Linked DNA regions of Homo sapiens: region 1 is linked to region 2. Evidence: fine-mapped QTL for protein levels in blood plasma. A gene starts in region 2. The other region holds a variant in brackets. All regions are shown on one strand. Distances are from middle to middle.

What was found. PIP is the posterior inclusion probability: the model's chance that the variant is causal. The UK Biobank Pharma Proteomics Project read protein levels with antibody pairs (Olink). The fine-mapping took linkage between variants from a reference panel, not from the people measured, so its PIPs are less certain.
Region 1: its variant is fine-mapped to the plasma level of the ANPEP protein (UK Biobank, PIP above 0.99). The variant lies in the coding sequence of ANPEP. If it changes the protein, the assay may bind it differently, which can mimic a change of level.

What each region holds. Positions count from the first base shown.
Region 1 is chr15:89,794,513-89,807,901 of GRCh38, reverse strand. It overlaps ANPEP (alanyl aminopeptidase, membrane), which reads left to right. Exons shown (of 21, transcript NM_001150.3): 2 at 1,096-1,932; 3 at 2,439-2,581; 4 at 2,685-2,824; 5 at 3,285-3,411; 6 at 3,495-3,649; 7 at 3,900-4,013; 8 at 4,112-4,255; 9 at 4,395-4,460; 10 at 4,598-4,663; 11 at 6,295-6,467; 12 at 6,715-6,791; 13 at 8,343-8,476; 14 at 8,587-8,642; 15 at 10,180-10,327. The coding sequence starts at 1,319. Among named protein-coding and RNA genes, the nearest start is that of ANPEP, 14 kb to the left of the region's middle. RefSeq lists cis regulatory regions at 1,188-1,191, 1,166-1,203, 924-1,205, 1,215-1,218, promoters at 924-1,315, 1,204-1,318, 1,166-1,318, 310-1,318, 1-1,366 and an enhancer at 2,765-3,964. The variant T/A (reference allele first, on the strand shown) is at 6,780.
Region 2 is chr15:89,811,502-89,826,642 of GRCh38, reverse strand. ANPEP (alanyl aminopeptidase, membrane) reads left to right here and starts at 11,791. Exons shown (of 21, transcript NM_001150.3): 1 at 11,791-11,871. It overlaps LOC124903551 (a long non-coding RNA gene), which reads left to right and starts at 1,189. Exons shown (of 2, transcript XR_007064753.1): 1 at 1,189-1,683; 2 at 2,944-3,459. RefSeq lists enhancers at 1,176-1,225, 1,275-1,948, 3,866-4,366, 4,367-4,867, 11,723-12,222, cis regulatory regions at 11,408-11,410, 11,428-11,457, 11,456-11,459, 11,367-11,495, 11,747-11,752 and promoters at 11,367-11,855, 10,701-11,855.

The DNA of each region.
Region 1 (13,389 bases), 18 kb after region 2:
ATTGGATGTGGAGTGAGGTCAGGCGGTGTCGAGGTCTGAGAAACTGGGCTGGTGGATGGGGAAAGTGACAATGAACATAATTTTCCTGTAAGGTGTGTATTTTATTTTGTATGGTAAGTAATATCTTCATTTCTACCAAGGATAGAAAGAGGCAATTGTTGAGCTTTGGGTAAGAAAGAAGGGAACGATTTTTTTCTTTTTTCTTTTGAGTCTCACTCTGTCACCCAGGCTGGAGTGCAGTGGTGCGATCTCAGCTCACTGCAATCTCTGCCTCCCGGATTCAAGCAATTCTCTGCCTCAGCCTCCCAAGTAGCTGGGATTACAGACGCCCGCCACCACGCCCAACTAATTTTTTTTGTATTTTTAGTAGAGACGGGGTTTCGCCATGTTGGCCAGGCTGGTCTTGAACTCCTAACCTCGTGATCCACCCACCTCGGCCTTCCAAAGTGCTAGGATTACAGGCGTGAGCCACCACGCCCAGCCGGGAATGATTTTTAATCATTCTACTATTTGGTGTTTAATATGTTTTCTCACTAAATCTGTTCAACAAACCTGAGAGGCAAATACTGTTATTTATTTATGAGGAGAGAGGTTCAGAAGGGTAAAGTTACCTGCTCAAGGTCACAGCTGGAAAGAGGTGAAGCCTTCAGCAAAAAAAGCAAAACAACTCATTTCATTTTATTCCGTGAGCTGATAATGGAGGAAAAAGTATTTGGCAAGAAGCGGCAGGGAGGGGAACCTGGAGGAACTCCCTGCTCTTGAAGAATGCAAGGGAGGCTGGGACCTTGTCACTGAGGAGCCCCTGGCATCCTTCCAGAGATGCAACCAAAGGGGTGACCCCAGTGTGTTCTTAATAGGAGCCGGGAACCCCTTCTCTGTGCACCTCCCACCTCTTGCCCCTGGGAAGTCCTTCCCTGACTCTAACCTCAGTTCTGATGCTGTTCCCACCCTCTCAGCTCTCAAGCAGATCAATGCAATGCCACCTGGCCGCTTGCTTTGCCCACTGGGCCTACAGCCGGAAGCCTGCCCTTCAGCCCTCGGGCCTGATCCCAGGCCGCCTGCAGCCTGTAACCAGACACTGTTTGCTTCCAGCAGGCACCCCCCGAGCCCAGCTCCACACACCGTTCCTGGATCTCCTCTCCCCAGGCGGAGCGTGCCCCTGCCCAGTCCAGTGACCTTCGCCTGTTGGAGCCCTGGTTAATTTTTGCCCAGTCTGCCTGTTGTGGGGCTCCTCCCCTTTGGGGATATAAGCCCGGCCTGGGGCTGCTCCGTTCTCTGCCTGGCCTGAGGCTCCCTGAGCCGCCTCCCCACCATCACCATGGCCAAGGGCTTCTATATTTCCAAGTCCCTGGGCATCCTGGGGATCCTCCTGGGCGTGGCAGCCGTGTGCACAATCATCGCACTGTCAGTGGTGTACTCCCAGGAGAAGAACAAGAACGCCAACAGCTCCCCCGTGGCCTCCACCACCCCGTCCGCCTCAGCCACCACCAACCCCGCCTCGGCCACCACCTTGGACCAAAGTAAAGCGTGGAATCGTTACCGCCTCCCCAACACGCTGAAACCCGATTCCTACCGGGTGACGCTGAGACCGTACCTCACCCCCAATGACAGGGGCCTGTACGTTTTTAAGGGCTCCAGCACCGTCCGTTTCACCTGCAAGGAGGCCACTGACGTCATCATCATCCACAGCAAGAAGCTCAACTACACCCTCAGCCAGGGGCACAGGGTGGTCCTGCGTGGTGTGGGAGGCTCCCAGCCCCCCGACATTGACAAGACTGAGCTGGTGGAGCCCACCGAGTACCTGGTGGTGCACCTCAAGGGCTCCCTGGTGAAGGACAGCCAGTATGAGATGGACAGCGAGTTCGAGGGGGAGTTGGCAGATGACCTGGCGGGCTTCTACCGCAGCGAGTACATGGAGGGCAATGTCAGAAAGTGAGTTCCGGCTGGGCTGCCCGGTGGGGTGGATCCGAGGTGCTGAGGCAAGGCTGGATTCTGAGGGCCAAGGAAGGACTTAGCTTGCAGGCCTTTGAACCCTGTGGAGCCCGAGACTGGCCCATTGCTTCACCTCCAGCTGCTGGCAAAGCAGCTGCAAATGCACCGAACTGGGAGGGCTTCCCCACCCCTCACCAGGGAGCTGGGGATGAGGGACAGAGCGTCCCTTGGACAGACAGGAAAACCGAGGCTCAGAGGAGAGAAACTCACCCGAGGTCCCTGAGAGCCTGCTGGCACCCCGAATCCAGAAGGAGCCCCAACCCCCACGAGTCAGCTGGCCTGGCAGGGCTCCGGAGGCTCCCGGCGAGGCGGGGGTGGGAGCAGGAGCAGGGGTTAGGCTGGGGCAGCCTTCCATGTACCCCTTTCCCTGCATGCCTGGTAGCATCCTCAGAGCCCCTCCCACACCCCCAGCTCTGGCACACCCTCTAACCTTCCTGTTGGGGCAGGGTGGTGGCCACTACACAGATGCAGGCTGCAGATGCCCGGAAGTCCTTCCCATGCTTCGATGAGCCGGCCATGAAGGCCGAGTTCAACATCACGCTTATCCACCCCAAGGACCTGACAGCCCTGTCCAACATGCTTCCCAAAGGTGAGTGGGCCCTGCCTGCGGCCACAGGGCCAGGGGGCAGGCACCCTGGGCTGGGGTGTGGGGCAGGAGGGTACGTCCTCACACACACATGCTCCCTGCCCAGGTCCCAGCACCCCACTTCCAGAAGACCCCAACTGGAATGTCACTGAGTTCCACACCACGCCCAAGATGTCCACGTACTTGCTGGCCTTCATTGTCAGTGAGTTCGACTACGTGGAGAAGCAGGCATCCAATGGTGTCTTGGTATGAGGCTGGGCCCATCTCTCCTTCACGTGGGCTGGCCCCGGCTTGAGGGGTCTTCCCGTTCTCTTCATCCCTGTGCCAGTTTCTGAATTGTTAGGCCAGGGTTGGAATCCCACCTCTGAGTGATTTCAGGCAAGTGTCTTGTTCTCTGGTTCTCCATTTCTGCACCTGAAAAATGAAAACAATGGTTTCTCTTCATGAAGGGAGTTCCTGACCCACCGGTTACCAGACAGACGGTGGCTATGATGATTGTTATTCTCCAAAGGCCCTTCTCTAGGACCCACAGCCTCCAGACCCCAGTAGCGTTCCCCTCTGCTGACCAGGCCTCTAGGTTTAGCTTGATTGGCCTCCAGCCCTGGCCCATCAGGGATCCCCCCAGCCCACTGGGCCCTGGGACCCAGCCCACCTGCCCCAGGATCAAACAGGAGCCCCTGGTCTGCTTCTTCCTCACACCTTGCAGATCCGGATCTGGGCCCGGCCCAGTGCCATTGCGGCGGGCCACGGCGATTATGCCCTGAACGTGACGGGCCCCATCCTTAACTTCTTTGCTGGTCATTATGACACACCCTACCCACTCCCAAAATCAGGTGAGTGGGGGTCCTTGAGGAGGGAGGCAGTGGATGGAGCTCCACTCCCGGAGTTCATCCTGCCAATGGCATCGCCTCCCCAGACCAGATTGGCCTGCCAGACTTCAACGCCGGCGCCATGGAGAACTGGGGACTGGTGACCTACCGGGAGAACTCCCTGCTGTTCGACCCCCTGTCCTCCTCCAGCAGCAACAAGGAGCGGGTGGTCACTGTGATTGCTCATGAGCTGGCCCACCAGGTAGACCCCCATCTCGGGGAGTGCGGAGAAGGAAACAGGGGCTCCGAGAGGAGACGGCGCAAGTCCAGGCTCTGCCCCGGGCTGCTGAGAAGGGAGGAGGGTGCCGCCTGGCAGGGCAGCAGGAAGGGGTCACGATGGTGTTGAAATCCCCACTGTGCCTGGCAGATGGCCAGCCCTGGGGAGGGTAGTTCTGGGGATTCTCAGTGCCCAGCCTGGGCGTGGCTTGCCCAGCTGACCCCTCCCCCCACAGTGGTTCGGGAACCTGGTGACCATAGAGTGGTGGAATGACCTGTGGCTGAACGAGGGCTTCGCCTCCTACGTGGAGTACCTGGGTGCTGACTATGCGGAGCCCACCTGGAACTTGGTAAGCCAGCTGCCCAGGGGTCTGGTGCGGGGGGCATGGAGGGAGACCTGGGCCACCGCTACCAGGCCAGTCTCCTGATGGCCCTGGGGAATTTGCAGAAAGACCTCATGGTGCTGAATGATGTGTACCGCGTGATGGCAGTGGATGCACTGGCCTCCTCCCACCCGCTGTCCACACCCGCCTCGGAGATCAACACGCCGGCCCAGATCAGTGAGCTGTTTGACGCCATCTCCTACAGCAAGGTGCAGCCCGCTCCTCGTGGGGCACGGGGAAGGAGGTGGGGACTTGGCCTGGAGGGGCCTCACTGAAGGCAGGGTCTGGGGGCACAGGGTCCTGGTGGCTCTGCACAGCCTTCTGAGCGCCCCCTCACCCCCACCCCAGGGCGCCTCAGTCCTCAGGATGCTCTCCAGCTTCCTGTCCGAGGACGTATTCAAGCAGGGCCTGGCGGTGAGTACTGCACCCTGGGCCAGCCATGAGGGTGGGTCTCCTTCTGCCCCTCGCCCTTGACCCGGGCCTCTGCCCACCACAGAGGGGGAGCCTGGGGGGCTCCAGCTGTGCTCTCACTGTGCCCCGTCTTTCCACAGTCCTACCTCCACACCTTTGCCTACCAGAACACCATCTACCTGAACCTGTGGGACCACCTGCAGGAGGTCAGTAGCAGCCAGCCCCTCCACAGCCATCCTGTTGGGGTCTTGAGATGCTGAAGGTACCTGGGGGCAGCACATGCGTAAGAGAATGGGTCCAGCTCCGCGGCTGACCAGCCCTGCAGGGTGGATGGAGCCTCTGTTGCTCCTCCCTATAGTGGAAGCCGGGATGGCTCCTTGCAAGAGGTGTCTGAGTGAGGCTGTGGTTGAGGTCCTGGCCAGCAGCTGACCTCAGGCTACAGCGGGCTTCTTGATGGGAGCTGTAGAGCCCCTTCCTGGTGGTGAGGAAACTGCCCTCATGGTTCCCGCCTCTGCCTGGAACTCTGGAGCCTGACATTCAACCTTCTCCCCACTCCTGGCTGCCCTGTGCCCCCCGCTGGCGCCACGGGCATGTCTCTGCACACAGCTCCACCACCCTCAGCAGGAACTCTGCCCTCTGCCCCTGCCCCGGCTCGAGTTCCTCTCCATCAGACCCCGCACAGCCCCTGTTTGTAGGGCAGATCCCCAGACTGCCACACCCTCCTGCCTTCCCCCAGAGGCCGCCGCTCCTCTCCCTCCCCCAGGGTTGGAGTCCACCTCCTCTCCATCCTGCCCCCATCATTTCCGCTGACATCATTTCCCTGACAGCTGCCCCCTACCCCTTCCCTGCAGCTCTGCCCAATGCTAGCGTCTTAAGCCAGAGGACAGACATGTCCTCTCCTCACCGACAGCCCCTCCAGAGTTCCGAGCCTCAAATTCCCGTCCAGCTTCTACCCCACTGTTGCTGCTGCACTTCCAGTCCAGGCCTGTCTCACCAGGGAAGCGAGACCCAGGATCTTGTCACAGAGTCACAGCTGAGGTCCGGGTCCCTGCTGGGCAATTTCCAACCCCCTAGACCCCAAGATGCTGCTGACAAAATGACACTGTCATTGCCTGGGTCTCCCCCACTACCTTCCTTGCCCTGCCCCAACTTCCCCTTTGCGTTCCCTCCTAAGCCAAGCTCTCCTCCCTCTCACTCCTCTTTCCTGAGACCCTCGGCCGGCAGCCCCCAGCTGGTTCCTCCCCACATGCTCTTCTGCCCTCTGTGTGGCCCCGTTCTTAGGTGATTCCTTTCTTCAGTTATTAACAAATGGGGTTGGCTTTCTGTTGTGATGACAAAGGCAAGGCAGGTGCATGAGCAAAGATCCAAGAAGACAAGAAGACAACAACAGTGCCCCTGAGTCCCGCCCCACACCCCAGTCCGAGTGCACTTCCCTCATGCGACCCCCAGGGCCCCGTCCCCCACCCCTGCCTGTGACACCTGAACACTGGCTTTCTCTCATCTCTGTCTCCTCTTTCTTGTCCTCCTCCCAGTGTTGTTCAGGAAGAGCCATGGGCATCCTGGGCACCCCCTCCCTGACATACACACCTCAGGGTGGACCACAGAATGGAGGGCCTCATAGATTTGCTGGGAAGTTCTCCAGCTCGTCCAGCACTGAGCAGCCGAGGAGAGGCAGAGCTGGACGGTACCCTGGCTCCCGGCTCCCAGCCCAGTGCCCTTCCCAGGCCTCCCATACAAGTGGCCCCCCGGGGTCGAGGCGAGAATCTGCAGGAGATGCCCTGGATGGCAGGGACTGGAGGGTCCCACTGATGGCCACGCCCTCTCGCTCCACCCACAGGCTGTGAACAACCGGTCCATCCAACTCCCCACCACCGTGCGGGACATCATGAACCGCTGGACCCTGCAGATGGGCTTCCCGGTCATCACGGTGGATACCAGCACGGGGACCCTTTCCCAGGAGCACTTCCTCCTTGACCCCGATTCCAATGTTACCCGCCCCTCAGAATTCAAGTGAGCAGATGGGGTCACTGAGGCATGGTCAGGTGGGTGGGGTAGAGGGCAGTTACTAAGGGACCATAGTAGGACTGGCCTCCTGTGGTCCCAGCCCCAGCCACTGTAGACAGACCCTCCCTCCAGAGCCAGGAGTTCAGGGGCACTCGGTGCCAGAGCTGGGCAGAAGCTGGGAGCCTGGGCAGCTGCTCCTCACTGGCAGTGACCACACCGCCATCTCTCACCACCTCTGGATCTTTAATTGCAGCTACGTGTGGATTGTGCCCATCACATCCATCAGAGATGGCAGACAGCAGCAGGACTACTGGCTGA[T/A]AGATGTAAGAGGTAATCCAGCCCTGCCTTATGGGCAGCAGCCCCCACCCCATACTCCTAGCTCCTGGCCCATGTTCTGAGGGCTGTGATGGGCCATTCCATTCAACAAATGGACTTGACTTCTTTGGTTCCAATCTCCACTTTGCTGCTGCTTCGCTGTGTGACTCTGGGCAAGTTACCATCCCGCTCTGGTCTCTAGTTCCTCTTCTATAAAATGAGGCTAAGAGCAATACTCCATTAGTTATGTGAGGATTAAAGGAGAGAATCCTAGGCCAGGCATGGTGGCTCATGCCTGTAATCCCAGCACTTTGGGAGGCCGAGGCGACCTGGGGTCAGGAGTTCGAGACCAGCCTGACAAACATGGAGAAACCCCATTTCTACTAAAAATACAAAATTAGCCAGGTGTGGTGGTGCATGCCTGTAATCCCAGCTACTCTGGAGGCTGGGGCAGGAGAATTGCTTGAACCTGGGAGGCAGAGGTTGCAGTGAGCCAAGATCGCACCATTGCACTCCAGCCTGGGCAACAAGAGCGAAACTCTGTCTCAAAAAAAAAAAAAAAAAAAAAAGGAGAGAATCCACATAAAATGCTTAAAGTAGTGCCTGGCACATGTTATGAGCAGCCCTACTCAGCAAGGCACTGAAGAAGCGAAGGGCATGACAAGTCATCCTTTGCCTTGGCCAAGGCTACAGATGAAGGAAGGCAAGAAGTTGGAGGCATTCTAGTGCTGTGCTGAGTGCTTTCAGAGTGTATGGTTGGGGCTAGTGAGGTATGGGGACATGGAGCAGGGAATAAGGGAGATTCAAGTTCATGGAGAGGTCAGGGAGGGCTTCCCGGAGGAGGTGAGCTGAGTCTTAGAGGAAGAGTAGGAATCAGACAGGCTAATGTGGCAGAGAAAAGAATTCCAGGCAAAGGGAATAGCAAGTGCCAGGGATAGAGGTAGGAGAGAGTGTGGGGACTGAGTGTAGCTAGGGCAGAGGTGTGCCCAAGAGATAAAGCTGGTCCCCAAGGGCCCCAGGGGCTGCAGGAGACAGTGGATGGGGCAGGTGGGAAATGAGCAACCTATTGGCCCTGACCTCTGGCTGCTGAAACAAAGTATGAGAGGAGTGAGGGAGGAGGGGGACCCACAGGGAGGAAGGGGCACTAAGCCCCAGAAAGAGACAGCAGCACTGGGGGTCTGGGTGAATGGGAGGGGAAGGGAGAGGAGGAGCTGCCTGTGGTTCCCACTTGGGTGACAGGTGTGATGGAGTGTGGAGGAGGGCAAGGAGGAGGAACAGCCTGGATTGCTGAGTGTGAGCGGCCTGGCAGCTGGCCTGGCCGTGCAGAGCCTAGGGAGGCAGGGCAGGTTCTGAGGTTTGGGGTGGCATGTCATCTTCATGGGTTGATGGTCTGTGAAGCCACTGGCAGCCCAGTTCCTCATCCCTTCCTTCCCCACCCTTAGCGTCTCCCCAGCAGCTTGAGGGTGAGGTGGTGCCAGGCTGCGGGGGCAGCTGCTCTTGCAAGAGGTCCAGGGGTCAGCCCATGGCCTCTGAGCAGCCCTGCCCAGGTCTCGTCCCTCTCCACAGCCCAGAACGATCTCTTCAGCACATCAGGCAATGAGTGGGTCCTGCTGAACCTCAATGTGACGGGCTATTACCGGGTGAACTACGACGAAGAGAACTGGAGGAAGATTCAGACTCAGCTGCAGAGAGACCACTCGGTGAGTGTCTGCCACCCCTCGCCCTGCCCCCTGCCCCAGGACAGGCACCAGACTGCAAGGCCTGCCACCCACAGCCAACCCATGGTCACATGCTGTGCTTCGCATTCTAGGCCATCCCTGTCATCAATCGGGCACAGATCATTAATGACGCCTTCAACCTGGCCAGGTGAGTGCTCCGCTGCCTGGCTCAGCTGCAGAAGCTCGTGACTTCAGCAAGTCTGAGTCCACAATGAGGGCCCCTGCTCCTCCTGCTGCCCTTCCCATATGCCACGTGCTGTGCCCTGAGCTCCTGTGCTCCCTGGACGTCCCTCCCTGGGTCCCCACACACCCATTTCACAGATGAAGAATGTGACACCTTGCCCGAAGTCACACAGTAGTTCATGACAGCCAGACAGAGGCTTGTCCAACTCCAAAGCCATCCTCTACTCCACAGCACCAAGCTTTTTGTTTTTGTTTTTGTTTGTTTGTTTGTTTGTTTGTTTGTTTTGAGACGGAGTCTCGCTCTGTTGCCCAGGTTGGAGTACAGTGGCGCGATCTCAGCTCACTGCAGCCTCCACCTCCCAGGTTCAAGCGATTCTCTGCCTCAGCCTCCCGAGTTGCTGGGATTACAGGTGTGCACCACCATGCCCAGCTAATTTTTGTATTTTTAGTAGAGATGGGGTTTCACCATGTTGGTCAGGCTGGTCTCGCACTCCTGACCTTGTGATCCACCCACCTCGGCTTCCCAAAGTGCTGGGATTACAGGCATGAGCCATGGCACCTGGCCATGCCCCCCCGCTTTTTTTTTTTGAGATGGAGTCTTGCTCTGTCACCCGGGCTGGAGTGCAGTGGCGTGATCTTGGCTCACTACGACCTCTGCCTCCTAGATTCAAGCGATTCTCCCTTCTCGGCCTCCTGAGTAGCTAGGATTACAGGCATGTGCCACCATGCCCAGCTGATTTTTGCATTTTTAGTACAGATGGGGTTTCACCATGTTGACCAGGCTGGTCTCAAACTCCTGACCTCAGGTGATCCACCTGCCTTGCCATCCCAAAGAGCTGGGATTATAGGTGTGAGCCACCGTGCCCAGCTGCACCAAGCTTTTCCTGAAGGCTGACTATGCTGGGCCACTGTTCTAAGTGCCAAAAATCTGGGCTGGACAGGGCAGGAGGGATGCAGTATGGATAAACAGGTACTTATTGAGCACCTACTCTGTTTGGGGTGAGGTACTCTAAGCTCTTGGACATGAGTGATGTCACCCACAGACAAGGACATTTGTGAGCTAAATGTGTACAGAAGGCAGGAGGAAGAAAGGCCTAGAGTGCCCAGAAAGTCAGAAGAGGTGGTCAGAGTTAAGAACACGGGCTTCTTGCCCTTTTAAATCTCAGCTCTGTCTCTCGTGAGGTGTGTGACCTTGGGCAAGTCACTTCACTTCTCTGAGCCTCAGTTTCCTCATCTGTAAAATGGGGATAATAAGCAAAGGAGTGGAACTGCCAATGGGTGAGGGTGGGGCCTTGTTTGTGGCACCACCCAGCAGCCATGTAGCTCTTTTTCCATGGCAAATGCCTGAGCTGGCTCAGTTGGGAATCTGGGACCTCCGGCTCCAGGAGTGGATACAGGGGGCCTAGGGGTGTGGAGCATCTTTGAGGGCCTGGGTTGGGGTTCCCAGGCTGTGGCTGGGCTGGGTGGAGGTGCTTTACTTGGGCCCCTCTGTTTATTCCCAGTGCCCATAAGGTCCCTGTCACTCTGGCGCTGAACAACACCCTCTTCCTGATTGAAGAGAGACAGTACATGCCCTGGGAGGCCGCCCTGAGCAGCCTGAGCTACTTCAAGCTCATGTTTGACCGCTCCGAGGTCTATGGCCCCATGAAGGTACGGAGGTGCATGGTAGGGTTCAAGAACCAGTTCGCCCCAGTGCCTGAAAGTGCACTATTAGGAAGTTAATAGACTATTGCCTACTGGACTCCTGGTCAGGGAACCTTCAAAAGCAAAACAAAAAACCAAAAAAAAAGAAAGATTGCCTTGTCAGGTTCTCTCCTGAGAGCACGCAGGTGAAAGAGCGAGCCGGAGGGACATGGAGGTGAGTGAGCAGGCACTGAGGAGGTGAGTGAGGAGGCTGCGTGGGGCAAAACAATAAAGGTCGCGGAGACTTCAGCAACGTTTGTTGATTTGAAATATGGGGAATTAACGCTTTCAGAAGGCACAGAAAAGGCCACCATGCTGAGGGCCAGAAGACCTGTCTTTTGCCAGCTGTGTGGCCTTGGGCAACCCTTTCTCAGACCCAGTTAACTTCTCTGTCAGATGGGCAGGCCTCTACCTGCCCGGCCAGCCCACCTGCGCTATGAGAGAGATGTGGGTATTGGCTGCTTTGGAGTATCTTAAGGCTGAGCATAGGGGCCTATTTGAGGGCTGAGGCTCCCGCTTGGGAGACCAAAAGGAAACTCGAGCTTATTCTGGATGAATAAGCTACATCCATAGGATGCTCACTGCAGCAGTTTATAAAAGACAAAAAGCAAACAAAACACAAATACTTAAACGTCTAAAGGTTGAAGATTGGTTAAACTGTAGAATATCCATTTCAGGGTGTGATATGTAGTCATTAAATCATGCTTGAAGAGATCTTTTTTCATTAAAAAATGTTCAATTATCAGGCCGGGTGCAGTGGGGCTCATGCCTGTAATCCCAGCACTTTGGGAGGCCGAGGCAGGCGGATCACGAGGTCAGCAGATCGAGACCATCCTGGCTAACACGGTGAAACCTCGTCTCTACTAAAAAAAAAAAAATACAAAAAATTAGCCAGGCGTGGTGGCGGGCACCTGTAGTCCCAGCTACTCGGGAGGCTGAGGCAGGAGAATGGCATGAACCTGGGAGGTGGAGCTTGCAGTGAGCCAAGATGGTGCTACTGCACTCCAGCCTGGGCAACAGAGCAAGACTCCATCTCAAAAAAAAAGAAAAAAAAAAAGTTCAATTATCTGTTAATATCCATTATGGTAAATGAGAGATTTTGGTAAATGAAGTTTCAACCCTCTTACTGCTTTCCCCACATTCCCCATCCTCCTAATGTAGTTAAATCATAATATTTAGTCAAATCAGTGTTAAGCATTTGCTTTATTGTGATTATCTAAATAGTATTCTCTGCTGAGCCATGTAGAGCACTATGTTTATGTTTCCTTTTTTGTACACAGTTACAAATGTATCACACAATAGGTCAAGTTTTTGTTTGTTTGTTTAGAGACAAGGTCTCACTCTCTTGCCCAAGCTGGAGTGCAGTGGTGCAATCAAGCTTCACTGCAGCCTCAAATACCTAGGCTCAAGGGATCCTCCTGCCTCAGTCTCTCCATTAGCTGGGACCTCAGATGTGCACCACCATGCTCTTTTGTAGAGATGCATCTTTTGTAGAGATGGGATCTTTCTGTATTGGCCAGGATGGTCTGGAACACCTGGCTTCAAGCAATCCTCCCTCCTTGGCCTCCCAAAGTGTTATGATTATAGGCGTGAGCCACTGTGCCCAGCCCAGTTTTGAGACTGGACTCCTCCTGGAGTCCTATTCTGCCTGCTCTCTTCCAGAGCTGCCACACAGCTCCCATGCTTGGAGGTGCCTCCCTCTACTGTGTTTCCTGCATCCCATGGATTCTTTGATTTTTTCCCCTCTCATAGGGGAATACATCTTCCAGGAGTTTTTGAGAAAGGGTTCATGAGAGGTGACTTTTCTGGGGTAGATCATCTGAAATGTCTTTATTCCACTCTCACACTGGATTGAGCGTTCAGCTGAGTTTAGAAGTTTCAAGGTGGGAAATTATTTCTCTGAATGTTTAAGGTCTTGCTCCACTGATGTCAGGCTTGCCATGTTGCTGATGCGATGCCCAGAGCCATTCTTATTTCCAGTTATTTGAATGTGACCAGTTTTCCTCCCTTCTGGAAACTTTGGGAGCTTCTCTCGGTCCTGGTGGGCCTTGGTTTGGGCCTCGTCTCCATCTACCTTTTCCAATCAGGACTGGCATTCACATCATCTAGTATTGGAAGATTTTGTATTGCTTCTTTAAACTTTATTCCCTTCACTTTTTCCAGTTATCTCTTTCTGGAACCCCTGTAATCCAGCTTATTTCTCTTGCTTTCATCCTCTAGTTTTCTTTTTCTCTTCTGTTTTCCAGCTTGTTGACTTTTTATTCTGCCCCCTGGGAGGTTCCCTCAGCTTTGCACACCACCTCACCTAGAAATTGTTTTCATTTCTTCTGTCGTATTTTTAAATTTCCAAGTGTTCTTTCTGATTCCAGCATCCTATGCAATATCTTCTCTTCACTCTCAGAGGATATTTATTACAGGCTCTTATGAAGTTTTCCTTTTTTTTTTTTTTTCCATTGACTCGTTTCCTCTTGAGTTTTGTGTTTGTTTTGGCCTCTTTTCAAGTTGGAGGCTGAGCCACCCCTTTGGGTTTGAGACAGACACAAACAAAATGCAAGTGGAAGCTCCATGGGAAGGTGGAGTGTGTTGTCCGGGGGATCTCATTGCGAGGTGACTGGGTGGCCAAGTAACTCTTCACTGGGGACCCTCAAAAATTAGTCCATGGGTTTGTTCTCTCGAGACAAGGCAGTTTTTCCAGAGAGTAAGCCTCTGTATTGTGCAATGAGGCTGGTAGTACTCCCATTCTAGGACACAGGAGGGAAGGGAACTGGGGTGCCACCTTTCAGTATGGAAACTTTCACCTCTGACCCTCTTTGCAATCCAGCAACCCTCCCACTGTGGTCTGGTGACCCCACTTTCTGAGCCCCCTGGTTCAATCTCTCTCATGGGGTGGTGAGGGGTGCTGCCCTCTACAAGGAGGGAAGTGGGGACTTGGGGGTTGAATGACTCCTTCTGTAGACTTTGACTTCATCTTCCTGTTTGCAGTCCTTACCTCCCCTCTGTCCCTTGCTGACTTGTCCCTTTAATTTTTT
Region 2 (15,141 bases):
GGGAGGCCAAGGTGGGCAGATCACGAGGTCAGGAGTTCAAGACCAGCCTAACCAACATGGTGAAACCCCGTCTCTACTAAAAATACAAAAAAAAAAAAAAAATTAGCCGGGCGTGGTGGCACATGCCTGTAATCCCAGCTACTTGGGAGGCTGAGGCAGGAGAATCGCTTGAACCTGGGAGGTGGAGGTTGCGGTGAGCTGAGATCGTGCCACTGCACTCCAGCCTGGGCAACAGAGCAAGACTCTGTCTCAAAAAAAAAAAATTCTACAAAATGCAAACCAATCTATAGTGACAGAAAGCAGATGAGTGGCTGCCTGGGAATGGAGTTGGGGAGACGGGTGGGAGGGAGGGACGACCAAGAGACTCAAGGAAACTTTTTTGAGGTGACCTGTCAGTGAATTATCCCTATCATACAGATGAGACAAATGAGGCTCTTTGGGATTAACTTACTTGCTGATGGTCACACAGCTGTGAAAGGTCAGGTCCAGAATGGGAGCCAGGTGTGCCTGAATCCAAACGCTGTGTGCTTTTTTTTTTTTTTTGAGACAGAGTCTCGCTCTGTCACCCAGGCTGGGGTGCAGTGGCATGATCTTGGCTCACTGCAACCTCTGCCTCCTGGGTTCAAGCAATTCTCCTGCCTCAGCTTCCTGAGTAGCTGGGACTATAGGCGCACGCCACCACACCTGGCTAGAAACCCTGTGCTTTTTAACCTTGGGTGGAAGGTGACTAGCAGACAAGGGGCCAGGAGTGAGGGTCCTTAGGATTGAACACGGGCTACACAAAGAAACCCAGAGATGGCCCCTGCTTAAACATGGTGTTCCAAAGAGTGACACGTGGGATGAAAACAAGGTGGGCTGAAGCCAGGCCCCACAGAGTTTTCAGAGCAGGTCCTGGTGCCCTGGGCGAGACGGCACAGAACAGCACCGCAGGGGGCTGGGGCCAACTTGGACTTGCTTGGGAGAGCCAGCTGTCCACATTTCAGTAATGTCATGGGTCAGTTGTCAAGCATAGCCATCATTAAAAATTAAATTGCATATGCTCACAAAGTATGTCAAAAGAGCAAAGGTAATATGCAACACTTACCACTTCCTGATTATGTTAACATGTTTGACTATCATTTCTGCTTTTGGGGTTATCCACGCCTCTTGTATCTGTGCGGTGGAGACATCATACCCTGGTGTGCCACTGGGCATCTGTTCCCAACTCCACATCCACAGCAGCTTGAAATTGGACAGGGCAGGGTTATTTATTTACACCATGGAAACTGGTAAATGCTAAAGTCAGGGCCAACGCCCTGCACCCTGCGCCCACTCTCTGCCGGTTGCTAAACACTTTTGTCATTACATCATTGAGCCCTAGGGTCTTGGGCCACCCCCATGGGGAGCAGGAGGCCTGGGACTGTGGCTGAAGGAGGACGCATGGAGTCAGAGGCTACGAGGCCCGGAACTGCCTGGAATGATGGTATAAGATGGCCAGGATGCACCGAGCCCTGCTGCCCGGCACGTTTCTCATGCATTTGCTCACTGCTCACTACCACCCTGAGAGGCAAAGCATCGTTACCATCTGCTGGTGGGGAAACTGAGGCACAGAGAAGTGACTTACCCAGGGCCACTCAGCTAATAAGTGTCACAGCCAAGATATGAAGCCTGATCCTTAACTGCCACGCTCTGCCCCCTTCAAAGGTACAAGTGTCGGACTGGGGATCTGGCCTAACCCTTCCCTGAAACCTCCAGCTGTGTGCAGGCCCCAGCCCCCAGAAGCCTGGAGTGAATTTCAGTGACCACTCAGCCTGTGGCCCCGCTTCCCCTGTAGGCAGCCAGTAGTGGGAGCCACGTTTCATGCAGATCTGAGGGCTAGGGAGGCCAGATGCAGGTGGGCCTCTTCCCAAGACAGTCGGGGTCCTTTCTCCAGGTGCCCTGGAGCAATATGGGCCAAGTTGGGTGGGTGGAACCGCTACGGCCTCCTGAGGGCTCAGAAGAAGAGAAATTCCAGGAATGCAGCCACCTGAGGGACCGCTCAGGTGACAGAACCCCCGAGCACCACCAGCCCGTCCTCAGCCCTCTTTTACTGGCAGTCTGCCTTATGCCGGTGCCGGGCACACTCAGGAGGGAGCAGACTCCATGCGGGGGAGCCTGCCGCCAGTCCCCCTCCCAGGGGAGAGAGGCAAGGGGGCTGCTGCAGGTCCAGGGAAAGGCTGATGCATTGATGGTGGGAGAGGAGGCAGCGTGATGCTTTGCATGGAGTTTGACCTTGGCATTGGTGGAGTCCTGAAGGATTTTCAACAATTTAGGGGAGAGAGAGGGAGACAGTGACATCTCCAAAAGGTCAGTCCGGCTGCCAGTGGAGCAGAGGTTGTGGTGAGGGCAGGGGGACCACCTAGGAGGCTGGAGTGGCCAGTGAGCGGCTGCCGCGTCCTCCCCTAAGGCAGAGCACAGGGCAGTGGCTGCAGAATTGAGCAGAATTGAGGCCTATTGGATAGGGGACAGGGAGGCAAAGAGCCTGATGGGCGTGGCACCCTTGGCCAAGGTGTAGGGGCAGGATGGCAGGGTCAGGTTTGGAGGTATATTTGAGAGCCCCCAGGATGCCCGGTTCAGATGACTACAAGGAGCTGGTTCTGTGGAGGGGGCTGGGCAGGACGTCTTAGGCCATGGGTGAAAATGGAGGATGGTGTCCAGGGAGATGGTGAACCCGTGGGAGTGGGTGGGACATCCGTGATGGAGAAGAGGAGACCTCATGCCCAGGACAGATCGGAAGGCATGAGGTCTCCTCTCCCACCCCCACCCAACCCCCTCTGTAGAGGGGACAGCTTGGAGGTGTGAGCCACACCACCTGGTCAAAGACCCACTAAGACAATCCCTGGGGGGCTCCTCTCCAAGGGCTTCTTAAGGGCTGGGCATTGCTAAATGCTGTACAGGATTTTTCTCATTTAATTCTTACAACAGCCCCAGGGATTGTCCCCATTTTACAGAGGAAGCTGATGGCTCAGGCGTGAGTAACCACCCCAGGCCAGTGCCCAGCTTGTGTCAGACCTTCTGAGGAAGCCAAGTCTGTCTGACCACAAAGCTGCCTCCTACCCAGCATTCCTCTGCAGGGTCCCTGCCCTGCCCTGCCCTGGGGGACTCCTGGGGGAACCACATCCGTGCTTAGGTGTGGCATCCAGGGGGCACTGGGGAGGGAGCCCGCCGAGGGGTGCCATGCGGGACTTGGCGTCCCCACCTGCCTGGTCCATTCCTCCCCCCACCCCACTCTGCCCTGCCCTGCTGCCACCTCAGGGACCTCTGTGGGCTCTAGGTCCTTTCCATCCCTTCCACAGCCTGGACAACAACAGGCCCTTTCCCACTTCCTGAGAAAGTTCCCAAAGAAGTTCATTGTAAAAGCTACTCTTTGTCTTTTTTTTTTTTCCAAAAAATGTGTTTTTAATCAATTTTATAATAAAATCCAAACTGAGTTCTTGAAAACAACAGCAATAAGAAATTGAAAAAAAAAATCTCAGTGCCAGGAAGTACTGACTCTAGCACTGCCCTCCCCAGCCCCAGCAGCAGCCCTGGTGCCCCATTCCCCTGACTCCCTCCCCCACTGCTGGTCACCAGGCCTCCTGAAGCCACCTCTGGAATATCCCTGAACTGCTCTCCTTCTGTCTCTGGAGGGCACCCCACCCCCCCACCCGCCACCAACTGCTCTTCCTGCCTCCTACCTGGCACCCTTCCAATCTGGTCCCCAAACTGTCCCCAGGGGCTCTCTCTAAAAGGCAAACCTAATTCCATCAGTGTCCTTTTCTCCAACTTCATCAGGGATTCAGGATTCCCAGGAATAGAGCTCAATTCCCTAGCTCGGCATTCAGGGCTCCACTGTCCCTGAGCACTCCAGCCTCCCCCTCGCCATGCACCGGACCCCCTGCTTTTGGAAATGTTGGTCCCTCTGCTACGGACACCCTCCCTCCACCTGTCCATCTGACAATGCACCTCATTCCTCAACAGTGCCCCATGGACACTCACCTTCTCCTGCCCTCCCTCGTCACAGTGTGGGGGTTTCTGTCATCTCACCATTCTATCCAGGCTGACCTCGAAGGCCTGGGCTCCAGCGATCCTCCCACCTCAGCCTCCTGAGAAACTGGAATGACAGATGCACACCATCATGCCCTGCTTTGGTTCTTTAGTTCGCCCTATATGTGCCAAGTCCTGTGCTAAGTGCTGCATACAGTGGAAAACAGCGCAGGCAGGAACCCTGCGCCCACGGAGCTTATTATCCCTGCTGTTGTTGCCCAGGTAGACCAGTCATCCTCGGTGCACGGGAGCCACGCATACACACAGCTGACCAAAGTGCCTGCAGGCAGCCTGTGCTGCTTAAGCTTGTGGGGAGAGGGAGGTTTAGAAACAGCTGCTCCCGTCCTCACCAAGGGACTCCAGCCTAGAGAAGGAGTCTTTGGGGAAAGTCCCCCACTAAGCTGCCACGCCCTGAGATCACGCACCCTCTCCCAAGGGCTCTTCCGAGCACCACGTGGGGCTGAGTTACTGAGATGGAGGTGGCAGCAAGGGATGCCACGCAGGATGAGCAGGGAGGCATCATTCTGAGTCCTGCCTGCCCCTCCCACTTCCACCTTTTCTTTTCTCTCTTTTTTTTTTTTTTTTTTTTTTGAGACAGAGTATTACTCTGTCGCCTGGGCTGGAGTGCAATGGCACGATCTCAGCTCACTACAACTTCTGCCTCTTGTGTTCAAGCAACTCTTGCGCCTCAGCCTCCCAAAAAGCAGGAATTACAGGTGCATGTCACCACGCCCGGCTGATTTTTGTATTTTTAGTAGAGACAGGGTTTTGCCATGTTGGCCAGGCTGGTCTTGAACTCCCGGCCTCAAGCAATCCAACCTCCTCTGCCTCCTAAAGTGCTGGAATTGCAGGTATGAGCCACTGCACCTCACCCTTTAAGCAGTATTTTAATGGTTTTGTAGTGGTGGGTGGTTGCTATGAAAATCTCACGTTTGTTCTAACAATTCAAAGAATAAACAAGCATATAAGGAAAAAATGGATAGTCTCTCCCCTGTCTCCCTCCCCCAGCCCACCCCTGGCTCAAGTCAACCTCACTGAGGCAGAGTGGGTTAATAATTTGGCAAGTTCATTTCCATTTCATCCCAGCACTCATGACAATACACCCGAATGACGCACCCAGAGAGAGGACCCTGCAGCTTTGCTGGGTCAGACAGATGTGGCTTCCTCGGAAGGTCTGACACAAGCTGGGCACTGGCCTGGGGTGGTTACTCACGCCTGAGCCATCAGCTTCCTCTATAAAATGGGGACAATCCCTGGGGCTGTTGTAATAGAGGGTGAGATGAAATGCATTGCTTGGAACTTGCTTTTGAACTTAAAAATGTACGAACAGACATCATTCCAAGGTGATACATACAGAGTTAGCACACACGCTCTGTGACTGTGTACACTGTTTCCTGTGGACCTTTATTCACTTGTTTAAAGGGTGCTCTACAGACATTTTGGCTTATTTTTCTTCTCGAACAAGGAATGCTCTAATAAGCCTCCTCCTGCATGAATGGTTTAAGCAGTAGTTTCGTTACTCCCTGGGTTTAGGATAAATTCCCCAAAACAGGATCACTGGATGAAAGGGTAGCTGTGGTTAAATTGTGAATAGGGCTTGCCATTTTATTCATAGCGATTCCCATGTGCCCCAGGACTGTGGGGGGATCCCAGTTCCCCACACCCTGGCCGACTCTAGATGTTATCCGTTGGTCTAGACCTTGGCCAACATCATAAGTGAAAACTGACATCTCATTGTTTTGAAATTGTGTTTCCTGAGTATGACTAAGGTTAAACATCTTTTCACCTGTTAGTTGGCTTTTAAAATTTCCTCCTCTGTGAAGTTTCAGATCTAATCCTTTGCCCGGTTTTCAGTTGTGTTGTTTTTATTTTATTTTATTTTCCCAAGTCCTATTCTGCCCTAATGTTTGTTTGTTTGTTTATTTATTTATTTTGAGACGGAGTCTCACTCTGTTGCCCAGGCTGGAATGCAGTGGCATGATCTCGGCTCACTGTAAGCGCCGCCTCCTGGGTTCACGCCATTCTCCTGTCTCAGCCTCCGAAGTAGCTGGGAGTAACAGGCTACCACCACCACGCCCGGCTAATTTTTTGTATTATTATTATTTTTTTTTTAGTAGAGACGGGGTTTCACCATGTTAGCCAGGATGGTGTTGATCACCTGACCTCGTGATCCTCCCGCCTCAGCCTCCCAAAGTGCTGGGATTACAGGCGTGAGCCACTGCGCCTGGCCTGTTTTTATGTCTTTTACAAACACCTTGTAGGACCTTTTTAGGACATTATTGATATTAATCTGTTGTTGTTTATATGTGTTGCAAATATTATTGTCCAGTGTAATATTTGGCTTTTGCCATACAGAAGTTTGTATATATTTAAGTTTTCCTTTTGTTATGGAAATTTGAAAACACACTAAAAAATAACAGTAATAATGAACCCTCAATATACCCATCTCTGAGAGTCAACAGTTAGCAACATATAGCTAATTTTCCCCTGTTATGGAGGGTTCTTTTTGACTTTGCTTGTGGTGGTTGTGCAATGCAGAGATTTTTACCTTTATGTAGTCAACTGTAGCGGTCTTTTCATTTGTGGAGTATGGATTTCATATACCTAAAAAGGTCTTCCCACTCCACGATTATTAGCAAAACAAAACAGAAAGTACTCTTTCAATACTTCTAAAATATGATTTATTATTATTATTATTATTATTATTATTTTGAGACAGAGTTTCGCTCTTGTTGCCCAGGCTGTAGTGCAGTGGCGCGATCTCGGCTCACCGCAGCCTCTGCCTCCTGGGTTCTAGTGATTCTCCTGCCTCAGCCACCTGAGTAGCTGGGATTACAGGCATGCGCCACCATGCCCGGGTATTTTTGTATTTTTAGTAGAGATGGGGTTTCTCCATGTTGGTCAGGCTGGTCTCGAACTCCCGACCTGAGGTGATCCACCTGCCTCGGCCTCCCAAAGTGCTGGGATTACAGACGTGAGCCACCGCGTCCAGCTATGATTTATTGTTTTTAGAATGGTAGCATAGTACTTTTTTCATATAGAAGCCCATAATTTATTTAACCAATCCTCCATTACTGAACATCTAATTGTTTCTGATTTTCCCCTATTTTAAATCATGCTGTATTGAGCATTCCTGACTTCTCCACCCCTTCTGGATTAGGTCAAAGCAAACCTGAGACATCAAATCATTTCATCCACAAATATAAGTTTATAATTTTTATTTATTTTTTTTTTGAGAAAGAGTTCTGCTCTTGTCGCCCAGGCTAGAGTGCAATGGTGCGATCTCAGCTCACTGTAATCTCTGTCTCCTAGGATCAAGTGATTCTCCTGCCTCAGCCTCCTGAGTGGCTGGGATAACCGGTGCCTGCCACCATGCCCGGCTAATTTTTGTATTTTTAGTAGAGACAGATTTTCACCGTGTTGGCCGGGACTCCTGACCTCAGGTGATCCACCTGACTCAGCCTCCCAAAGTGCTGGGATTGTAGGCATGAGCCACTGCGCCCAGCCAAGTTAAAAAAAGTTTTTAAAATAGAGATGGGGTCTTGCTATGTTGCCTTGGCCTCAATCGATGCCCCTGCCTCGGCCTCCCAAAGTGCTGGGATTACAGATGTGAGCCACCTCACCTGGCATTCAAATTTTTATATTATAGCCAGGCGCAGTGGCTCACGCCTGTAATCCCAACATTTTGGGAGGCCAAGGCAAGTGGATCACCTGAGGTTGGGAGTTTGAGACCAGCCTGACCAACATGGAGAAACCCTGTCTCTACTAAAAATACAAAATTAGGTGGGTGTGGTAGCACACGCCTGTAATTCCAGCTACTCGGAAGGCTGAGGGAGGAGAATCGCTTGAACCCAGGAGGCGGAGGTTGCAGTGAGCCAAGATTGCGCCATTGCACTCCAGCCTGGGCAACAAGAGCAAAATTCCATCTCAAAAAAAAAATTATATTATAAAGCCTGTTAATCTTCTGGTCTTTCGTCTTCACTTTTAATTTTATTTATATTTTGATTAGACACGGTATTCACATGGTTCAAGATTCAAGAGAACAAAAGGATATGCTGAAAAATGCGTTTCCCACCCTGTTCTCCAGCTCCAGTTTCCTTCCTGGGAAACAACTCGTGTTATCAGCGCGTGCACATATAAAAGCAAATTGTGTGTCTCTGTGCTTTTTCCATTTAAGTACAATTGATAAACGACTTGAACACGGCTCTGCGTCTAGGTTTTATTACTAAACAACCTGTCCTGGGGAGCGTTCTGTAAGGAGAATCCTAGTTATTTTTGATAGCCATATGCATTCCATTGCAGGGCATACAATAATCATTCATTTATCCCATCTCTATTGGTGGACATTTAGGTTGTCTCCAGCTATTAGATTGGTGCAAAAGTCATTGTGGTTTTGGCTCAATGTTGCAGCGATGCAGTGGAAAGCCTTGTGTATTCCTTTCACTTACGTGTGAGCATTATCTGTAGGATAAATTTCTGGAAGTGCCAAGTCAAACAGGACATGTGTTTATATGTTTGATAAATACTGCCCAAATATTCTCTTTTGAGGTCGAGTCAGTCTACACACCAACCAGCAATGCAGGGGGTTGCCTGTTTTCCTCCCACCCTTGCGAATAGTGTGTTACCAAACTTTTTTTTTTTTTTTTGAGACAGGGACTCACTCTATCGCTCTGGCTGGAGTGCAGTGACACGATCATGGCTCACTGCAGCCTTGACTTTTCAGGCTCAAGCAATCCTCCCACCTCATTCTTCCAAGTAGCTGGGACTACAGGCACGTGCCACCACGCCTGGCTAATTTTTTTTTTTTGGTAGAGACAGGGTTTTGCCACGTGGCCCAGGCTGGTCTCGAACACCTGGTTTTAAGTGATTCTCCTGCCTCAGCCTCCCAAAGTGCTGGAATTACAGACATGAGCCACTGTGCCTGACCTACCAAACTGCTTTTTATCTTTGCTGATCTGGTAAGTGAAGAATAGTATCTTTTGTAGTTATAATTTTCATTTTCTTAATAAGTGAGTTATTGAACATCTTTTTACATGTTTATGAGCCCATGAATTTTCTTTCTGCAGGAGCAAGCACTGTCTCTTCATCTTTTTTTTCACAGGGGGTGGACAGAGTCTCTCTCTGTTACCCAGGCTGGAGTGTAGTGGCGCAATCTCGGCTCACTGCAACCTCCACCTCCCGGGTTCAAGCGATTCTCCTGCCTCAACCTCCCCAGTAGCTGGGATTACAGGCACCCACCACCATGCCCACCCAATTTTTGTATTTTTAGTAGAGACAGGGTTTCACTGCATTGGCCAGGCTGGTCTCGAACTCCTGACCTCGTAATCTGCCTGCCTTGGCCTCCCAAAGTGCTGGGATTACAAGCATGAGCCACCACGCCCAGCCCACTTAGGCTATTTCTGATTTTCCAGTATTATAAGTAATACTGCAGTGAAAAGCCTTGCATATAAATATTCTATTTCCTTAGGCTAAATTTATTTATTTTTTTGAGACAGTCTTGCTCTGTAGTCGAGGCTGGAGTGCAGTCATGTGATCTCAGCTCACTGAAGCCTCTGCCTCCCAGGTTCAAGCGATTCTCGTGCCTCAGCCTCCCAAGTAGGTGGGACCACAGGCATGCGCCACCACACCTGGCTGATTTTTGTGTTTTAGTACAGACACAGTTTCACCAGGTTGCCCAGGCTGGCCTTGAATTCCCGACCTCAAGTGATCCACCTGCCTTACAGGCATGAGCCACCACGCCCAGCCTCTTCAGGCTAAATTTCTGAAAGTGATCTTCATTCCTAACCCCAAACTGCCCTCCAGAAAGCTGGGTTGCACTTCTGCCACAGCAGGATCTTTACTCCTCTTAAAATCTCCGCGGAGCCTGGGTGGGAGAGGCAGAGCTCCGGGGGGAAGATTCTCTCCTGGCCTGATGTAGTGTTTTCCTTGGCTTGTCAGACATGGAGGAGATTATGCCAGATATGATAGTGGAGAGAGTCAGACATGCATGAGACTGGAGAGAGAAAAAAAACAAAATAGCCTCTGAGGTCTCACTCACAGCCTACTTACTCTTACTTTACACACAATTCTATATTCCGATATGTTTGTGACCTGGTTTTTAAGAGTACAGAGCAAATTAGGAAGGAGAAGCAAGGCTGCTACCTAGAGGTACCCTGGTCCTCCATGAAGTTTCCAAAAGAAGAGCAAGTGCAAGTAAAATAATAAAACACAGCCAGTCACAAAGCCATCAATTTGGACCATGCAGTGCAAGGCTTTAACTGTCCCAAGGATTCCAATCATGGATAAGGAAGAGCTTAAATTTGATTATAAATCTGAAAGTCTGGAAGTCAGCTTGAATATTGTGGTAGACATAATCATATCCTCCTCCTCAAAAGATGCCCTGGTTCTAATGCCCAGAATCTGTGAATATGTTATGCTACCCCACGAAGGGAAATTACAGTTGCAGGTGGAATTCAAGTTGCCAATCCATTGATTTAAAATAGAAAGATTACCCTGGATTATCTGGGTAGGCCCGATGTAATCACAAAGATGCTCACCAGTGGAAGCAAGAGGCAGAACAGTTGGTGTCAGAGTGACAGATTGTGAGAGACTGGTGGGCCACTGCTGGCTTTGAAGATGGATGGGGCCACCAGCCAAGGAATGTGGGCAGCTTCTAGAAGCCAGAAAAGCCAAAGAAACAGGTTCCCTTCCAGCCTCAAGAAAGCTGTATCCCTCAACCCCCTTGCTTTTAGTCCAGCGAGACCCATTTTGGACTTCTGATTTTACAAAACTTGTAAGATAGTAAATTAGTGTTGTTTTATGTTTGTGTTACGGCAGCCACAGGGAACCAATACAAATATTATCTGGTACCGCCCATTAAAGCTGCTCAGAGACAGGGAGCCCCACCCTGGCGGGGCTCCGGTGGCTGCACAACCTCTGCAAGCAGGATCAAGATGAGAGGCGCAGGCCAGGTGTGGTGGCTCACTCCTGTAATCTCAGCACTTTGGGAGGCCAAGGCGGGCGGATCACTTGAGGTCAGGAGTTCGAGACGAGCCTTACATGGTGAAACCCTGTCTCTACTAAAACTCCAAAAATTAACCAGGCGTGGTGGCGTGCACCTGTAGTCCCAGCTACTCGGGAGGCTGAGGCAGGAGAATCGCTTGAACCCAGGAGGAGGAAGTTGCAGTGAGCGGAGAAAGTGCCACTGCACTCCAGCGTGAGCGACAGAGCGAGACTCTGTCTCAAAAACAAATAAAGGAAAAAGAAAAAAATGAGAAGCGCGTGTTCCCGACTCCGGTGCTTTTTCGCAAGGTCGTGCTACTGCGCCTTCTGAACTACGAGTCCCAGGTACCAAGAAAGTTGAATTGCGTGCTGTGGCGGGTCCGTTATCTGCACCACCCGTCTGCACGGGATGCGCTGGCTTCCTGCCCCGGATGCACAAGGCTCCCTGCGGGACACTCAGGGCGAGGCTCTGAGCCCCTCCCCCGCGGCAGATGCCGTCCAGATGTGGCCGGCGGGTCCCGCGGGCTGCGGCGACAGGGACCCCGTCGGGGGCAGCAGGAGCCCTGGTGCATCCCAGGCCCCGGGGGGAAGGCCGGGCCGTCGGAGGAGCGGAGGAGCCCTGGGGGGCTCCCGGGAAGCCGCGGGCGGACGGGGGAGGAGCCCGGGCGGAGCTGCGGGCGGGCGGCCCGCTAGGGGTGAATCGGGTGGAGTAGTGGTCGGGTCCGGTTACTTCCCTTTAAAAAGACGGGAAAGGAGGAGTCCAGTGCTGGAGGGGCAGGGACGGCGGCGGCGCAGCTCGGAACCCGCCAGGGTCCAGGGTCCAGGTTCCAGCGCCCGGCGGCCCAGGCAAGTGGGGCGGGAGGGCGGGGGCTGCGGGCGCGGGTAGGGGTCGTGGGGCAGTTGGGTGCGCGGGAACCGAGGGAGCTGCAGACCCAGCGCTTGGCGCGTGCGGAGCTGGACTTCTGCGGCCGCGACGCCCCTCTTCCCAGATGGGTAAACTGAGGGCCAGGGAAAGCGAAGAATTCTTTTGGCCGAGCTCCCACTACGATCTCGCGGTCAAGTGGGTCCCCAGCGGGCCTCGCAGGGGTCGGAGGGGCTCCCATCTGGGGAGGGGGCCCCAGGGTGGGCGAGGGCGACGGGAGCCTGGGGAGGACGGACGGGGAGGGCGGCGGAGCGGAGCTAAGCTGCGGCGGGTGGACCCGGCTCGGCCGCGGCCACTCTGTCCCTGGTGGGTGGGGCGCGGCCGAAGGCAAAGGGCGAACCCGGCCCGCCTGTGGGGTCTCTGGCCAACACTGGGCTCAGAGGCCCTTTCTTTAACCTTAGATCTCGCTCCTCGGTCTAAAGCCTCCGCCGCAGCTCTCAGTGAAGAGGAAGGGGAACTCTAGGTGCTCAACGCCCGCGTTACAGTCGCGTTCTCCCTCGCTCCTACAACCCGGCCAAGATGCCGGGGCATGGATGGGGACCGAGGTTTGGGGGTTGTGGAGCCTATTCCACGCCCTCCCTGGTGAGCAACTGAGACAGATCCAGGGCCCCATTGCAATCCACTCTTGGTCTGGGAAAAGGTCCCCTAAACAGGGCCAATGGGATCCTTTCCCCAAATGACTCCAGAACGCACCCCCCCCCCCCAGCAGTGCGGTGGGCAGGGACGGCCCAGGTGGGCTATGTCCTGGGGTTTTGTGACTGGATCCCCACTCCTCCCCCACCTCAGCCCCTGGACTGCAACCCACCAGGCCGTGTTCGGGGGTGGTCAGAGCCCTGGTCTCAGCCAGACCTGAGGTCTGATGTGGCTTCATCCCTGAGTCTCTAAACGCCCTGGCCTTACTGGGCCTCAGTTAATTCACCTGTGAAAGGGGAGGCTTGGACCAGAGGGCCCCTCAGGGTATGTGTTTTGTGGAGGGGAGGTGGGCGTGTGGGGTAGGGGTGACCAGGAGGAAGTGGGGACAGCCTCTGTCCCACAGGAAGGCTGGCTAGCCCCAGTGGGTATGGGGGAGCTGGGCAGGGAAGAGGGTGGACTCCCCTCTCCCTGTGGGAGGGTGTGCTGGGCCCATGAGGCCCTCATCCACTCTCAGCCACCTTCCTGTGGAGCCCTAGCCTCGAAGGCCACACTATGAGTGCAAGGAGGCCACCCACAGCGCTGCTCCCGCTTCACAGGTGGGGAAACCGGCCCAGTGTCTTGAGGCAGCCCAGCCGCCTGCCCTGTGCTTCCCCCAGAGCCTTCTGGGGAATGAGACCTTCGTTACACGCTGGCGCTCCTTACACCCCTACAGCCTTTAAGCTAAGGCCTCCAGCCCCATCGCTGTAAGAATTGTATGCTAGGCATTCTGAGGACATAGATGGGGGTCCCCATGTCGGAAGGAGCCAAGGTGTTGGAACTGGGTCCAGTTCCTGGGCTGGCTCTGGTGGGAGATCTGGAACCCTATGCTGGGGCTCCTGGACAGCCCTGGAGGCATGGCATGGACAGTGTGTCAGCCGCACACCGAGGCCCTGGGGTGTCCTTATTCACATAGGCTGGCAGCCATCTATCCCTAGCCCGGGCTTCACCCCGGGTGCCTGTCACTCCTGGCCCTACAGTGGTCCCAGTCACACCTTGGAGGCAAGATGTGGGTCCTCCACAGGCCTGTGTCTGGAAGCAGCCCCCAGCACTCCCTGGCTAACAAGTTCTACTTCTGAGAACTACCCCCAGCTCCCAGCCCTGGTCTGGCCAAATGGGTGCGTGTCTTCTCCTGTGGTCTTCAACTCCCCTTGGCACGGCCACAGTAGATGTGAGGGGCTGTATGGGAGGACATTTTTAGGAGGCATATGTAGTTAAGCTGTGGAACCTGCTGCTAACTAGCTGTGTGGCCTTGGGCAAATCACTTAACCTTTCTGTGCCTCAGTGTCCTCATTTGCCAAATGGGGGTGATTATCCTGGTAGGGCACATAGTAGGTGCTCAGTTTCACCTACCATGTGTCTCACCAGGATAATCACCCCCCATTTGGCAGACAGGAGTTGCCAGGCAGGATCTGTGGCCCCACACAAACCCTATGTGTACTTCCCCCACCCACAAATGCCTCTGCTCCTTCCTCCTGTGTGCCCTGCATTGGGCTGAAGAGGCTGATGAGAGGCAACTTCCCATTGGGGCCTTCTGAGGTTCTTGCAGGAGGGGCAATGTCCAAGGCTCCCAGAGGAAGCACCCTGGGGTGATGCAGCTATGGGCGGAGGCCTCAGAAGCCTGGGAGAAAGCCAGGGGCCTGCGGGGACAGAGTGTGCCCTGGCCCAGGCCCAGCCTCGTCCCTACCCTTCTCGCTCACTGCTCCCTCAGAGCAGACAATGAGCCCCAGGTTGTCCCTGAGCTCCCAGTCTCATAGTTCACAGTCAGGGACACTGAGTGGGAGTGGGTGGGGCCTACCCAAGGACCCAGTGGTCGGGGATGGAGCATGGATAACACAGCAGCTCACCCGGCCACGGGTGCTCAGCTCTCCCGGCCACAGCCCCTCCCAGGCTCCTGGAGTCTTCATATTAGAGTAGAAAGCCTCTTGCACTTCACATCTGAGACCAAGGAGCCTCTCCCCACCCACAAGTGTGGGTGTCTTCCACACTGTGACTGTGACTTAGTTATGCCCTGGCATGATCGTTGTCAACCTTCATGTTTTTTGGTTTTGGCTTTGGTTTTAGTTTAGAAGAACTTACGTTTTCTGGACTAAAACATAGGCAGGGAAGAAATACATAAACCCATAGAAAGGCTGCTTTAGTTGAAGTGGGTTGAGAGCTCGGCTTCTACCCCGTCAAGAAATTCACAGCGAAAGGAACACATGCATTTTGCTCACTGGCAGAAAGAGCCTGCACCAAAGACAACCCGCAGGGCCAGCAACCCCAACATCATACAGGGTGGAGCAGCAGTTCCCAAAGCGGGTGCAACTGGACAGGATCCTTTTAGGAGCTACCTAGAGGAACAATTTTTTCTTTTTTTCTTTTTTTTTTTTTTTTTACTTGAGATGGAGTCTCACTCTGTCGCCCAGGCTGGAGTGCAGTGGCACGATTTCGGCCCACTGCAACCTCCGCCTCCCGGGTTCATGCCATTCTCCTGCCTCAGCCTCCCGAGTAGTTGGGATTACAGGCGCCCACCACCACGCCCG